Linked DNA regions of Homo sapiens. The protein of the gene in region 1 purifies or fractionates together with the protein of each later gene. This does not show direct contact. Each region holds a gene or a part of one and is shown on either strand. Other genes may lie near its edges. The genes, in order: LAPTM5 and EPB41L5.

Region 1 (3,821 bases):
TGATGCTCTAGGCTCAAAATAAAAGCCTCACTTCCTGGAGGCCTCGGGGCCAGGTTGGCAACAGAGAAGTCTCGGCCAGGCCAGGCTAGGCCCTTCAGCCACTCTCTGGGTGGGATGGGCCATGGGGGCCTCCTGCTTTTAGAAGCTGGGGTTCACACCCCTGAGGTGAGGAGAACAACTCAGTTCTGACACTGAGGAGGGGCTACAACTCCCACCCTGCCCCCACCGGCCTCCTCACCCCTCCGTGAAGCGCACAGAGCTGCAGTGGCAGAGAACGTGGCCTCTCTGTCCAGCCCAGGGGCACTGGACATAAAGGTGGCAAGTTCTAACAGATTCTCACCCAGGGTTTTCCCCACCTGGCAGTTTGGACCCATTTTTCAACCCCAAACAGATGAACTTTCAACAGAGGAGTGGGGCCAGGCACTATGGCCCACGCCTATAATCCCAGCACTTTGGGAGGCTGAGGCTGGTGGATCACTTGAGGTCAGGAGTTCAAGACCAGCCTGGCCAACATGGTGAAACCCCATCTCTCCTAACGATACAAAACTTAGCCGGGCATGATGGCACACACCTGTGATTCCAGCTACTTGGGAGGCTGAGGCACAAGAATCACTTGAACCCGGGAGGCAGAGGTTGCAGTGAGCCAGGATCACGCCACTGCACTCCAGCCTGGGTGATAGAGCAAGACTCAGTCTCAAAAAAAAGGGGCGGGGGGCCTTGTGTTCTTCTTCCACAGCCCACTTCAGGCACTCACCTGCTAGCCCTCCACCCGGCTTCGCTAGGGTCTCCTCCAAATGATCACTTTTGAGGCAGGGACCACTGGCCCCATTTACAGATGAGGAAGGCAAGGCTCAGATAACAAAGGTGCCCGCCTGCTCAAGTCACACTGCTGGTAAGTAATGGAGATGGGCCTGTGTTCCTTTCAATCACAAATCACTGCCCCCAAAGTGGAGCAGAGAAAAGAGCCCCAGGAGTTCTAAGGAGGACAAATCAGGAGAGCTTCCTGGAGGAGGAAGCTTCCCGTAAACTGGACCATAAAGAAGAAATGAATGGTGGGAGGCTGGATGAGGGCAGGGCCTCCCAGACAGACACACCACCCCAGCCATGGGGCAGGGAAGGAACTCATTTGCCCACTTTCTGGATCATTCCACACACCTGTGTGCCAGCAGGGGGACCTGAAGCAAGCTCCTGCCCCATCTCTCCATGTGTCCTGGAGCAAGTAAGGGGCCCTGCTGGACCTGTTTTCCCATCTGCAAAATGAGCTGATAGGCCGAAGAGAGATCCATCTTCTTAGCTCTGAAGCTTGTAAAAGCAAAGGACTCGGGCAGGTCCCACCCCTGGGGACCTCTCCACCCTCCTCCCCGACACACCTCGTGGCCACCCCTCCTAACCCAGCTTGACAAACCTGCTAGGTCTCTGAAGCACTGCAGGGTCCTTCCCCTCCAAGCCTGTGTCATGCTACTCCCCCCGCCCAGCGTGACCTCTTTTCCAAGGTGCCCAAGCAAAGCCCTACTCATCCTTAAGACTCAGACCTCCTCCAAGAAGCTATTCCAGAATCCCAACCTCCAGCCCTACATCTGTGCCCCCATCATAGCCAGCAATGTCATCCATTGTCCTCGTCGGTTTTTCCTTGGCAGACTGGCCCCTCAAGGGCAGAGGCCGTGAATGAGTCAGGGCTGTATCCCGGCCTGGGGCTGGGCACATGGGTGAACTTACCTGCACGAGGTCAGGGCAATAGAGACTCCTTCTTCAAATACTATGATTTGAATGCTTTACCTTTTTTTTTTTTAAAGAGTCTCACTCTGTCAGGCTAGAGCGCAGTGGCGCGATCTCGGCTCACTGCAACCTCCACCTCCCAGGTTCAAGCAATTCTCCTGCCTCAGCCTCCCGCGTAGCTTGGACTACAGGCTCCCGCCATCATGCCCAGCTAATTTTTTGTATTTTTAGTAAAGACAGGGTTTTGTCCTGACCTCAAGTGATCCACCCGCCTCAACCTCCCAAAATGCTGGGATTACAGGCATGAGCCACCGCACCTGGCCGTACTTTTTTTTTTTTCCAATTTAAAAGTAGTATACTTGAGCCACAAAGTAAAGTACCATTGGATTATAACCCAAAGCATACAGTAAAGATCCCTGGGTCCCTGTAATATAAATAAATCATTTATTTATATAATAAACTGGGAGTACAGACAAATCTCCTTGAGAAATTCCAAGTAATTTATGTAGCTACTCTGCCCTCAAGGAGGTGGGGCGGAACTCCCCATTCATCAAACTTGAGTTGCTTGGAGCAGCATAGTGACTTCCTTCTAAAACATACAGCATGGAAAGGAGAAAAAAAGAGTAACTTTACAAAGGAGTAACCTCAGCCGGGGGCTCAAAGTCACCAGCAACAGTGGTAAGTCAAGTTGGCAGAACCTTTTCTTAGTACGATGTTCTGAGACTGGCACATCATCTCTGTGGTCTTCCTCCCAAAAGCACATTCCCAGACTAATCATGAGAAAACCACCAGAGACCCCAGTTGAAGAACATTTGACAAAATGCCTGACAAATACTCCTCGAACTGTCAAGATTATCAAAAACAAGAAAAATCTGAGAAACCATCATACCAAGAGGAACCTAAGGAAGTGTGAAGACTAAATGTAACGCGGCATCCTGGATGCAATCTTGGAACAGAAAAAGGATGTAAGAGGAAAGCTGGGGAAATAGGGGTGAAGCACTGACTTTAATAACAGCCCACGAATATTCATTCACCCATTGCAACAAACGCACCACACTAACGTTGAGACGTTAGCAATAGAGGAACTAGGCATGGGGGACGCAAGAACTATCTGTACTGTGTTTGCAATATTTTCGTAAATCTAAAACCGTTCTAAGTACGTGCTCATTGTACCAAATATGGAAAATACAGAAAAGTAGAAAAAATAGAGCTTTCACTATCCTAGAACCCAAATACATTTCCTCCTCGCCCAGTTTTGACGTATCCTGTTTTGACACTGTTGAAATCATAGCAGGTGTTAAGTTTTTTAACCCAGACAATGCATTTCTGACAGTGGAATTCCGGGCACTCTGGGGAAGAGGGGTCAGGAAGAAAGAGATTTCTGGGCAAAAGTGTCTTCTGGGGGTGTCCACTTTCTACCATCGACTTAGAACGTGCTTCAGGTTGACAAAAAGCCAGGACCCAAGAGACCCAATTTAAGAAATTTCTCTAGACTGGGCTCGGTGGCTCATGCCTGTAATCCCAGCGCGTTGGGAGGCCAAGGCAGGAGAATCACTTGAGGCCAAGGGTTTGAGACCAGCCTGGGCAACATAGTGGGACCCTGTCTCTACAAAAAAAAATATTTAAAATTAGCTGGCCATGGTGGCATGCGCCTGTGATCCTAGCTACTCAGGAAGCTGAGGTGGGAGGATCTCTTGAACCCAGGAGTTCAAGGCTGCAGTGAGCTGTGATGGCACCACTGCATTCCAGCCTGGGTGACAGAGCAAGACCCCATCTCTTAAAAACAAAAACAAAACAAAACAAATCAAACCACAAAAGATGGGCAAGTTACTGAACTTTGAAAAAAAGAATAGATTTTTTAAAAAAAGAAAGAAAGTTTGCTGGGTTCCCAAAGTGTGCAAGTTTGGGTGACCCAGAGAATCCTCTACACAAACCCACTGACATCCTGAGGAAGATGCCCGAGCCCAAAGCTACGGACCAGGCTTCCCTCATGTAATAACGCCCTCATGACTCAATAGAGCGTGGCACTGTCTCAGGATGGCAAGGTCTCAATTTAACCCTCCCTAGAGGGGCCAAGTCCACAAATAGCTCATGATGTGCAGAGT
Region 2 (3,821 bases), on another chromosome or scaffold:
AACTTTTTCCAAATATTAACTCATGTTAGAATTGTTTTAAAAACTTGCATAATTATATATATTTGCAGCTTGCCTGTTTTATCTAAACGTGTACCTATGTAGATCTAACATATATATATGCTATTGTGTAATATGAATAAACAATAGCACATTCATTCATTCATCATTTATTCATTTATCCCTCTGCATAATTTTTTACATATGCCTCTATTTACTTGACCATTTCTCTTTTTTTGGACGTTTAGGGTTTGTACCAAGTTTTACTATTATAAATGAGACTGAGGAAATATACATCTTCATATATAACTTTTGATGTTTAGGAAATAATTTTCCCCAGAGAGGCAGTATAACTTAGTTGTTAGAGGTGTATGTAGATTCTGGAGCAAGACTAATGTTTAAGTTCATTTCCGGTTTTCTTTCTTAATAGCTTTGTGATTTTGGGCTTAATTTCTTTGAGCCTCAGTTTCCTTATCTATGAAATGGGGCTAATGATAGTATCTACTCATTGAGATAATTTATGTGAAATCCTTAGAAAAATTTCTATATGAATGTTAACTATTATAATTAGACTCATGGCAGTGTGATTACTATGACAAAAATGTGAGCATTTTTAGGGCTGTTGATGCATACTGCCAGATCTGATATGATTCCTCAAATTATAATTATACAGTTATCCCAAATAATGGCAGATAAAATCTCATTTTATGTCTCTCTCACAAATGAGATCATGTAAGTAGAGGGGAATAACTCCTAGGAATAATTTTGTATTGGCTGATAAAATGAGCAACTTGATTTCAGCTCTGCCCTTATTATGTTGATACTATAAAGAGTGTCTGAATTTCAGGGAGCACACTAGATCCTTTATTCATGGATGTGTTTGTATCTCAGAAATAGGAGATAGGACTGTTTGAATTAGTAATCATCCTTTTATATATACTTTTCTTTTTCAGGGCAAAGAACAGGAACATACATTTGTCTTTAGACTGGATCATCCAAAAGCATGCAAACATTTATGGAAATGTGCTGTGGAGCATCATGCTTTCTTCCGCCTTCGAGGCCCCGTCCAAAAGAGTTCTCATCGATCAGGATTTATTCGACTAGGATCACGATTTAGATATAGGTTAATTTTAATTGCTGTTTTATCTGTCTTTCATTGCATACAGGCCAAAAAATTTAGGCCAATCTTCTCTTTTTTACAGATATGGTAACTAAGGTATAGAGGAATAAGGTGGTTTGCCAGAGTCTTCCATTGGCCAAAATAAAATAGAAAAAGTGGTATTGTTATTGGTTATAATTTCTTGAATAGATGCGTAAACAGTAATTGTATAATGGCTTTTATATCCCTCTGGATGTTTACTTTATATATTAACCCACTCCCAGTTTATCTATTTAACAAGAGTTTTATGGACTCTCCACCCACCACTGGATACCATATAGAAAAGGGTTTCTTGCACTGAATGGGATATTAGTCTGGATAACATTTGTGGTCCTTTATAAACCTGAAGGTCATTATTCTCATGACTCCTTGTTTGTTGTCATGAGTTAGAAATGTTTTGGTTTACTGCAGAGTGGATTATTGGTTGTGAGTTTTCTGCATGCCATGGAAATCAGTTAAAGAAGGAATGGATTGTACCAATAATGTGGCCAGTTGATTGTGTGGAGTTAATAGAAGTAGTACTGTAGTCTACTTATATTAAAAGTAAGGAGGCATTTTCTAAACAGAATTTAAATGGAAATCAAGGAGAATAAGACAGTAGTCTTAAAAAACATTTCTGGAAAATTATACTGAAAAGTGAATATCACAATTAGAAAAAGTAACTGAAAATATTCTTTTAATTACACACTTTGCACTGAGGAATGTAGATGGGAAAGAGAGGGAGTTTCCATAAAAGGACAGATATTTCAAACTTATTTAATGTGTACTTAGGTGATATGCATGCATATGAGAAAAATAAAACCAACATAATCTGTTGCATATTTCACAAAAGCCGAAAGAATGATATGGTAAAGAGAGAGATCGAGACTATTAGTAGCTGTTCCTGTGCGATGAAGTTTAGGATGATTCTTTTAAGGAGAACCTGAATGTGGACTGTCTTATTTGTGTGTGTTTATTACTGTAGACCTAAAATTTCCCTTACTTCTGTTATGCCTCATTTAGTGGGAAAACAGAGTATCAGACCACAAAAACCAATAAAGCAAGAAGATCAACATCCTTTGAAAGAAGGCCCAGCAAACGATATTCTAGACGAACTCTACAAATGAAAGGTGAAGTGCAACCCTCTTTCAAAGGATTATTTTTCCTTGGCAATTAATTATGTGCTGGTGTTGTTTCCATAAGAGGAAGTTACCTGAATCTCCTCCTCAGGTCTGTTCCAGTCAACTAAAGTACTTTTCTGGCAGAATCAATTTCATGGGATACACAGAGAAAAATTGCCTGTATTGTTAGCAGAGATTAAACTTTATGTTAATCCCAATTCAAATGATAGTCTGAGGTTATGTTCAGTTTTTGTATACAAAACTGTTTCTGTAGAGCAACATATTCTCTCCCTTTTTGACTTACAGATCTCATTCTAAAACATCCCTTAATCCCCTTAGGAATTTTTAAAAACATTTTTATTTATTTATTTATTTATTTATTTATTTATTTATTTTGAGATAGTCTCACTCTGTTGCTCAGGTTGGAGTGCAGTGGCATGATCTCAGCTCACTGCAACCTCCACCTCCCAGATTCAAGTGATTCTCATGTCTCAGCCACCTGAGTAGCTGGGATTACAGGCATGCGCCACCACTCCTGACTCATTTTTGTATTTTTAGTAGAGATGGGGTTTTGCCATGTTGGCTGGGCTGGTCTTGAACTCCTGACCTCAAGTGATCCACCCACCTTGGCCTCCCGAATCCTAAAAGGATTACAGGCATGCCTGGCCAAAACATTGTCTTGTGATGAATTTTTTTTAAGTAAAATTTATTTCATATTGTATTATAATATTAAGGATTGTATTAAATACCATTTTAAAATATATTCATCATTGTTATACATAGACATTTCCTAATTCATAATTGTTACTTGCTGATTAAGATCAGTTATATAAGAAAAAGCACTATTTACCTTGACAAATAAATTAAACCTTGTGTTTGGTTTTAAACTGAATTTGCATTAAAATGAATTTGCATTAAAATGCAAATTTAATTTTAAGTATTTCCACTGTCAGAGTCATCACCAGTTGTCCAAAAACAGCTGTAATGATCTGATGTTTGGCAGTATTGACTTTTTTATAAAAATGATTTATACTCATAAGTTTTGGTGTGGCTGTAAATTAAATATACAGCTATAAATGAATTGTGATGATTTTAAAACCCTAAGTTTCCTCTTGGTTTCCACTGATGATAATTCATAATCAGTCAGCTCACTCTGGAGGCTTACAGATTGGTTCTGTTTAAAAGGAGGAGATATATATGCATTGTATTGCTTTATTTGAAAAATGAAAATAATTGCCATTGTTGCCTCTATGGTGTGAATCCCAAAACACTTTGGTGAATTGAAGGTTTTTAGATTTATGGTTGGGGCCAAATGTGGTGGCTCACACCTTTAATCCCAGCACTTTGGGAGGCCAAGGTGGGAGGATTGCTTGAGCCCAAAAGCTCAACTCTTAGGAGTTTGAGACCAGCCTGGGCAACAGTAGTGAGACCCACCCCTATCTCTACAAAATCATGAAAGACCCTTTCTCAAAGAAATAAATTTATGGTTGTGAAACATGGCTTGTAAAGCAATTAGTTAAAGTTTTGCTTTGAATAGTGCAGCAGTTTATCATGTAAGATGAAAC

Evidence for each region.
Region 2: the proteins of LAPTM5 (region 1) and EPB41L5 purify together in Homo sapiens (affinity purification with mass spectrometry, with the first as the bait; one study listed by BioGRID). This does not show direct contact.

The regions. Positions count from the first base shown.
Region 1 is NC_000001.11:30,751,043-30,754,863, forward strand, and holds part of LAPTM5 (lysosomal-associated transmembrane protein 5), read right to left. Parts: intron 1,319-3,821; exon of another isoform or gene 1-1,318. UniProt on the Homo sapiens protein: May have a special functional role during embryogenesis and in adult hematopoietic cells.
Region 2 is NC_000002.12:120,089,397-120,093,217, forward strand, and holds part of EPB41L5 (band 4.1-like protein 5), read left to right. Parts: intron 1-950; coding exon 951-1,120; intron 1,121-2,158; coding exon 2,159-2,265; intron 2,266-3,821. UniProt on the Homo sapiens protein: Plays a role in the formation and organization of tight junctions during the establishment of polarity in epithelial cells.